Regions from separate parts of the Homo sapiens genome. Here region 1 is linked to region 2. The links come from fine-mapping of genetic effects on gene expression. A gene starts in region 2. The other region holds a variant in brackets. All regions are shown on one strand. Distances are from middle to middle.

Region 1 (4,390 bases), 120 kb after region 2:
CTCTGTCCTCCTCTGTCCCTGGGTCTCTGTCCCCCTCTCTCTGGGTCTCTGTCCCCCTCTCTCTCTGTGTCTCCGTCCCCCCCTCTGGGTCTCTACCCCCGACTCTCTCTGGGTCTCTGCCCCCCTCTCTCTCTGGGTCTCTGTCCCCCTCTCTCTGGGTCTCTGTCCCCTGTCTCTGGGTCTCTGTTCCTTTCTCTCTTGGGGTCTCCGATGCTCTTAAGTCTCTGTGTCCTTCTCTTTGGGTTTCTGTCCCACTGTCGACCCCTGCCCCGTCAACTCCCTGGCTCCGGTGAGGGGTTAATGACCCGGTAACTCCTCCTCCCCAGGCCCTGGTCCGCATCTTCTCTGGCCGCCACCCGATGCTGTTCAGTTACCAGCGCTCCCTGCCACGCCAGCCCGTGCCCTCTGTGCAGGACACCGTGCGCAAGGTGGGCCTGGGAGCGCGCAGACGGGCTGGGGCGGCCGGGGCGGGCCGGGGGCGTGACCTGCCCTCTTCTCCCCTTTAGTACCTGGAGTCGGTCCGGCCCATCCTCTCCGACGAGGACTTCGACTGGACCGCGGTCCTGGCGCAGGAATTCCTGAGGCTGCAGGCGTCGCTGCTGCAGTGGTACCTGCGGCTCAAGTCCTGGTGGGCGTCCAATTATGTGAGTCCCGCCACCGCCACCAACGCCCCACCTGAAGGGCTAAGGTTGTGAGCTCGCCTGCTAAACTTGCGAGTTATACGCCCTGCCCCACGACACGCCCACAACCCACACGCCCCCAGCCCCCAAGGGTCAATACCCTGAGCCCCGCTCACATACATCTATATCCTAACCTCCACATTTATATATATATAAAAATATATATGTATATATATTTATTTATATATAAATATATAGTGTATATATAAATATATATATTTATTTATAAATATATATATTTATATTTATATACAAATATTAATATTTATAAATTTATATATAAATATATTTATATATAAATTTATAAATAAATATATAAATATTATAAATATATTAAATATATTTATTTATAAATTATAAATATATATTTATTTATAAATTATAAATATATATTTATTTATAAATTATAAATATATATTTATTTATAAATTATAAATATATATTTATTTATTTATAAATTATAAATAAATATATATTTATTTATAAATTATAAATAAATATATATTTATTTATATATAGGCTTATATATTTATTTATATATATATGCTCATAACATATATATGCTCTCTCTATATATTTAATGTTGAAGTTTGGGGTATAGATGCTCCAGTATTCTGAGCTTCACCCTTGATCTTCCAAAGTTTGAACCAGAATTCCAGGACTTAGCCCTGGTGCAATGTCTCACGCCTGTAATGCCAGCAGGTTGCGAGGCCAAGGCAGGCGGATCACGTGAGGTCAAGAGTTCAAGACCAGCCTGGCCAACATGGTGAAACCCCGTCTCTACTAAAAATACAAAAATTAAACAGGTCTGGTGGCGCACACGCCTATAATCCCAGCTACTCGGGAGGCTGAGGCGGGAGGATTGCTTGAACCCAGGAGGCAGAGGTGGCACTGAACTGAGATCGCGCCACTGCACTTCGGCCTGGGCCACAGAGCAAGACTCTGTCTCAAAAAAAAAAAAAGAAAAGAAAAAAAAAAAGACAAAACCAAAGGAGTTGAATGGTGAGGAGTGGTGGGAGAGGCCTGAACTCCAGACTGAGGATCCTGGACTCTTTCCTGGGGGTACTAGGGAGCCATGGGAGGGTTTGGAGCAGGGAAGGGGCAGGGTCAGCTTTGGTGTGGGGGAAAGACTGGAGGGCGGGAGGCTGCAGAGGAAGCTACCGTGAGACCTACCATTGTAGGTCATTGAGACACTGGGCTGGGATGAGAAAAGCTGCAGCAAGAGTGAGAGGGGAAGGGAAGAGGGTCCCCGGCAGAGCCCCACGAGGCAGCTATGTGGAAGCCTCAGTTGGTCAAACCCAGCGAAGGGGACGAAATATCTGGAGAAGTAAAAGGGAATGCAGGCCTTGCTTTTCTGGTTAAATATTTTTTTCTTCACACTTTTGGACAAGATTCTGTTTACACACACACACACACACACACACACACACTCATTTCTTTCTTCCCTTCCTTCCCTCCCTCCCTCCCTCCTTTCCTACCTTCTTTCCTGCCTGCCTGCCTGCCTTCTCTCTCTCTTTCCTTCCTTTTTTTCTGTCTCCTTCCTTCCTTTTTTTCTTTGAGATGGAGTCTCACTCTGTCGCCCAGGCTGTAGTGCACTGGCACCGTCTCAGCTCACTGCAAGCTCTACCTCCCAGGTTCACGCCATTCTCCTGCCTCAGCCTCCCATACCTGGCTAATTTCTTTTTTTTTTTTTTTGTATTT[T/C]TGTATTTTTAGTAGAGATGGGGTTTCACCGTGTTAGCCAGGATGGTCTCGACCTCCTGACCTCGTGATCCGCCTGCCTCGGCCTCCCAAAGTGTTGGGATTTACAGGCGTGAGCCACCATGCCCGGCCTCTTTCTTTCTTTCTTTCTCTATCTTTCTCTCTCTCCCCCTCCCTCCCTTTCTGTCTCTCTCTCCTCCCTCCCTCCCTCCCTCCCTCCCTCCCTCCCTTCCTTCCTTCCTTCCTTCCTTCTCTCTTTCTCTCTCTTTCCTTTTTCTTTCTTGGAAGGGGTCTCACTCTGTCACCCAGGCTGTAGTGCAGTGGCGTGATCAAAGCTCACTGCAGCCTTGACCTCCCAGACTCAAGCCATCCTCCCATCTCAGCCTCCTGAGTAGCTGGGACTACAGGCATGTGCCCCTAAGCCTGGCTAATTTTTAAATTTTTTGTAGACATGGGGTCTTGCTATGTTGCACAGACTGGTCTCAAACTCCGAGGCTCAAGCTATCCTCCCACCTCAGCCTCCCAAAATGCTGAGATAAGAGGTGTGAGCCACTGCGCCCAGCCTGTATATTTTATTGTACCTCCAAGCCAACTGCCAGTGACACACGCACCATTTTTTTATGTACAACAACAACAACAAAAAACCCTACAAGAGCAGCTAAACCGTGACACAGTGCTTTCTTTTGTGTTTTTCATTGTTTGAATTTTATCATGGTATTGGCAAGGCCACAATTTTCATGTATTTACACATATGTATATTATTTCACATATTTATTGTTTTATAAATTTTACATTTATGTTCTGTTTTTCTTTTTTGGGGGGGACGGAGTTTCACTCTTGTTGCCCAGGCTGGAGTGCAATGGTGCGATCTCAGCTCCTTGCAACCTCTGCCTCCCCGACTCAAGCGATTCTCCTGCCTCAGGCTACCGAGTAGCCGGGATTACAGGCGTGCACCACCACGTGTGGCTAATGTTTGTATTTTTAGTAGAGACAGGGTTTCATCATGTTGGCCAGGCTGGTCTTGAACACCTGACCTCAGGTGATCCACCCGCTTAGCCTCCCAAAGTGCTGGGATTACAGGCGGGAGCCACCGTGCCCAGCTGTACCTTGTTATTTCCACCAGCTATGTAATATTCCACTGCCGGAGTATAACAGGGTTTAGCTAACTGATCCCCCATGGATGGATTTCTAGGTGATCGCTAGTTACTGACTACGATGGCTGACTTCTTTGGCTCTATCCTCCCTGCCTGACGCAGGAGCATCTGGGGCCTTCCCTGTCCTACTGTCCCTCCCCCAACAGGCCCCAGCCCCTCACTGTGTGTCTCCCCACCCCGCTCCCAGGTCAGTGACTGGTGGGAGGAATTTGTGTACCTGCGCTCCCGAAATCCGCTGATGGTGAACAGCAACTATTACATGATGGTGAGAAGGGGAGGGGTGAGGTTCATAGGCCCCAGGTCTAGGGTTGGGGGGTACCTGGGCGGAATGTGACGGTCATGCTCAGTGACCTGGATCTAGACGCGCCATCTGGGATTCATCATTCCACCCTCTTTTGGGGTCAGGACCTGTATTTGGGTCAGTGGCTCCATCGGGGGCAAACCTGACCCTGGGTGTTTTGCCATCCCCTCTCCTGGTCCCCAGGACTTCCTGTATGTCACACCCACGCCTCTGCAGGCAGCTCGCGCTGGGAATGCCGTCCATGCCCTCCTCCTGTACCGCCACCGCCTGAACCGCCAGGAGATACCCCCGGTGAGAGGGCCCCAGTGGGTTAGGGATGGAGGTGTGGTCCTGTGGCCTTTGGGCCACGTGGGTCCTGGAAGGCAGCTCACAGCCCACGGTTTCCTGCAGACTTTGCTGATGGGAATGCGCCCCTTATGCTCTGCCCAGTACGAGAAGATCTTCAACACCACGCGGATTCCAGGGGTCCAAAAAGGTGAGACCCTCTCCTGTCCCCACTGATGGAGGCAGAACAATATAGTGGCTAAGAGCATGTTTTCTGGAGTCCGCCTGACTGA
Region 2 (4,390 bases):
TCAATGGCTCACACCTGTAATCTAAGCACAGCACTTTGGGAGGCCAAGGCAGGAGGATCGCTTAAGCCCAGGAGTTTGAGACCAGCCTGGGCAACATAGTGACACCTTGTCTCTATCTATTTTTTCTTTTTTTTTTTTGAGACAGAGTCTCACTCTGTCGCCCAGGCTAGAGTGCAGTGGCGTGATCTCGGCTCACTGCAAGCTCTGCCTCCCGGGTTCACGCAATTCTCCTGCCTCAGCCTCCTGAGTAGCTGGGACTACAGGTGCCTGCCATCATGCCCGGCTAAGGGGTTTCACCGTGTTAGCCAGGATGGTCTTGATCTCCTGATCTCATGATCCGCCCGCCTTGGCCTCCCAAAGTGCTGGGATTACAGGCATGAGCCACTGTGTCTGGCCTATTTTTAAATACTTAAAAAAAAAAAGAAAGAAAACAGAAGCAGGTAAAATGAGACCACAAAAAAGCAAACGGGACAAATTCAGATGGTGGGATGATCAACTGAACTAGAATTAGTTTCTTCAATGAATCGATTACACCAAGAAATAACCAAAGTGGAGTGGAAGGGGGAACAGTTCTAAATTAAGAGAGATGTAAAAGACGATAGCAATTACTTAACTATATCCTGATTCCAACAAACCCACAGTTACACTGGACTTGACTCTGCACCACGTAATGGATAGTAGTCTAGAATTACGGTTGTTCTTTTAAAGTGTGATGATGGTATTGTGGTCATATCAGCAATGTTTCTGGTTTTTACACACGCACCCTGTTAGATAAAATTTATAGAAGGTCATTGGTTTGGATTGAGCTCCTGCACTAGGTTCAACAGACCAAACCAAAATGGAGACACTCATGCTAAAGTTCCATGCTTCCAAGCCAAAACTAAGTTGATATCTGATCTTCTGAGATATCAGGAGAGAGATAATAGCCAAATCCCCAAACAACCCAGTTTTAGCCCACCTGATAAAGGAAGTCCCCTCTACTTTAACCTTTAACTTAGAAATTTAATCAAGTTAATCAATTTAATCAACTAGCTTTTTGTTTTCCGTTTCTGATTTTCTCAGCCCTTTGTCTCTGAAAACAACCTCTGCTCAGCTCATCGGAACACTCACGCTATTTTCCATAATTAGATGTTGTTTGATTGTAGATTCACGAATAAATGCCAATTAAGATCTTCTCACTAAATGTGTTGCAATTTTGTCTTTTGACAATCCTTAAGTGTCATGATGCCTACGATTTGTTTTAATCTCTTTAAGTTTAAAAAAATACAGCAAGTATGGCAAAAATAATCATTGGTGATTTGGGTGACAGGAATTCCTGTATTCTTCTCTCACTTTTATATAAGTTTGAACATTTTCGTAAGAAAACATTAACATCAAACTGCCTCAAGGACCGTTCAAGCCCCAAGTTCACAGAATTAGCAGCACAATCAGAATGGGAATCCATGACTGCCTGACCCCGAAGCTCCACACAAGAAAACGTGAATCCCTGCACCAACCCCGAAAGGGAAGGGGCTGTCAAAAAGGTGAAGAGAAGGTGGCGATGGATGACTGCACAATCTAGTATCGCCCGCCGTCCCACCACAGTCTGAGAAACTGAGGCCAGGAAAGGAGTTCTCCCTCCTCAACTCCCACTCCTTAGACCCCCAGCAATCCCAGTCCACTCCTTCCCTTGGGACCACCAGCAAATAGCCATCATCTACAGCAGAACTGTAACTCTCAGGAGAACTGGCCGATGCTAGCTACCACTTGACTGAGTTTATAGTGAGAGAGAGAGACAAAGAGAGAGAGAACTGCCCGATGGACGGTTGGCCACCTCCAGCAGAGTGTAGTTCAGCTTCAAACTTGGGGCGCCCGGACAGCTGTATTAATAATGATTGACAGGGAATCGGGAATCCAAAATCTTGCCCCAGTCTCCCTCAAGACCCCAGGCCTCTAGCCCGCAGGAAAGCGATCCCAGCAACACTCTTCCTGCACCGCCTCGAACTCACCTCACTAACGACTCCCAGTCCCTCGGTCGCTTCTTCAACTGTGCCCCGACACCGGAAAGGAGCACTATTTTCCCCCTCCGCTCCGCCCACTTCCGCCCAGCAGAAGGCACCGGAAGTAGAGCTGCCCCTAGTTGCGGAAGTGCCTCGCCTGGCTTGCTCAAGTCCTCTCTTCTCTTTCTCTCTCCGGAAACGTGAGTAGCTAATCGAAAGTTCCGGATATTGAAACTGGTGGGAATATGGGGAACGCTTACTATGTACGAGGCATTTCCCAGGGAGATCGTTTTTTCCTGCTTGGTTCCCAGGTTTTGAGTCTCTCCAAGCCCAAATTTAAGGACTAATCACTTCCCCTAGAGATCGGGAAGCCCACTTTCCCAAATATATCATCCACTTTTCTTGCTGCATCTTAAAACAATTGAGAAGAGACAACTACGCTCCCATTTTACAGACAGAGCCATTGGGAAATTGAAAATCAAAGCCGTTCAAGTCGCTCTCAGGAAACAGGGATTTACTGCGGCACTGCCCAGCTGTCCCAGGGACTAAGGCATATCGTTCCCGCTAGTTTCTAGATACCTAGAGACCTAGATATTAATTTTTCTAGCTCGGACAGACGAACTCCCAGGGGAGAGCCAGAGCGGGTAGGGGTCGGGAGGGAGGAGGAGGGTCGAATCTAATCCCCCAGGTATCCCATGGTATTCGACACCTTGGCTTCCTCATGGAGCTCTGGCCTTTAAGTCCTTTATCCCAAGGTCCCTTTAAATACTTTGTCCCTTACCTGAGTCCCGCCCAGGGCAGGTAATGGCAAGTTCCGCCCACCTGCCAGAAACGGGGATCAGGCCTGGTTACCGGGAGTGGGGCGCCCCTCCTCCTTATCCCCTCCCCTCTTCCCTGTCCCCTTTCACAGCTGGCTGTAGCTGGCCAAGGAGTTCTCGATTAAAGAGGAAGGGGCAGTGCTCACATTTCTGGGCAGGTAAGTGAATGTCCCTGGAGGAAGAGCCTGGCTTGGGGACCCAGGCATCCTGGCTCCCCGCCCCTCCGAGACCCAGAAGTTTGGGGCTCCTAGGCCCAGGAGTCCAGGGCCCCTGCCCACTTAGGTCCCTAGACCCAATAATATAACTAATCCCCTGCCTCTGCCTCTCTCGTAATCTTTGTTGTCTGTGGGTGGATGTGACAATGAGCACAGAAAGAGGCACAAGTGGAAATTACCAGGAAGGGAAGACTCCAGATCACCAGTGGACATGTTTATAAGCATCTGTGTCAGGTGCTGTAGACACAGTGGGGAAAGAAAGATAAGCTGCCTGCTCCTTGCTTTCTTCTCTGGCGGACACTGCCTTCACTGAAATCCTGGCTCTCACACTTGCACACTGTGTGACCTTCGGCAAGCTATATTACCTCTCTGTGCCTCAGTTTCCTGTTCTCTATACTGGGGATAATAATAGGACTCCTGGTCGGGCGCAGTGGCTCACACCTGTAATCCCAGCACTTTGGGAGGCCGAGGCGGGTGGATCACTTGAGGTCAGGAGTTTGAGACCAGCCTGGCCAACATGGTGAAACCCCATCTCTACTAAAAATACAAAAAATTAGCCAGGCGTGGTGGTGCGCACCTGTAATCTCAACTACCCGGGAGGCTGAGTCAGGAGAATCGCTTGAACCCAGGAGGCAGAGGTCACAGTGAGCTGAGATAGCGCCACTGCACTCCAGCCTGGGTGACAGAGCGAGACTCTGTCTAAAAAAAAAAAAAAAAAAAAACTCCTGTGAAAAGTTTTGTTTTGTTTTGTTTTTGACATGGAATCTCGCTCTGTCACCCAGGCTGGAGTGCAGTGGCACAGTCTCGGCTCACTGCAACCTCTGTCTCCCCTTTCAAGTGATTATTCTGGCTCAGCCTCCCAAGTAGTTGGGATTACAGGCGCCCACAACCACGCCTGGCTAATTTTTGTATGACTCCTGTGAAAAGTAAAATGAGTTGAGGCCGGGCACAGTGGCTCACGCCTGTAATCCCAGCACCAGCACTTTGGGAGGCTGAGGCAGGCAGATCACTTGAGGTCAGGAATTCAAGACCAGCCTGGCCAACATGGTGAAACCCCATCTCTACTAAAAATATGAAAATTCACTTTGGGAGGCTGAGGCGGGCAGATCACGAGGTCAGGAGATCGAGACCATCCTGACTAACACAGTGAAACCCCATCTCTACTAAAAATACAAAAAAATTAGCCGGGCATGGTGGCCGGCACCTGTAGTCCCAGCTACTCGGGAGGCTGAGGCAGGAGAATGGCATGAACCTGGGGGGTGGAGTGTGCAGTGAGCGGAGATCACACCAATGCACTCTAGCCTGGGTGACAGAGCGAGACTCTGTCTCAAAAAAAAAAGAAAATTAGCGGGTGTGGTGGCGCATGCCTGTAATCCCA

The links.
Region 1: its variant is fine-mapped to the expression of PRRG2 in whole blood (INTERVAL, PIP above 0.99).

What each region holds. Positions count from the first base shown.
Region 1 is chr19:49,700,991-49,705,380 of GRCh38, forward strand. CPT1C (carnitine palmitoyltransferase 1C) reads left to right here. Exons shown (of 20, transcript NM_001199753.2): 6 at 327-428; 7 at 507-644; 8 at 3,720-3,797; 9 at 4,017-4,124; 10 at 4,224-4,308. Among named protein-coding and RNA genes, the nearest start is that of CPT1C, 12 kb to the left of the region's middle. The variant T/C (reference allele first, on the strand shown) is at 2,382.
Region 2 is chr19:49,578,527-49,582,916 of GRCh38, forward strand. It overlaps PRRG2 (proline rich and Gla domain 2), which reads left to right and starts at 2,790. Exons shown (of 7, transcript NM_000951.3): 1 at 2,790-2,955. It overlaps NOSIP (nitric oxide synthase interacting protein), which reads right to left and starts at 2,030. Exons shown (of 9, transcript NM_001270960.2): 1 at 1,989-2,030.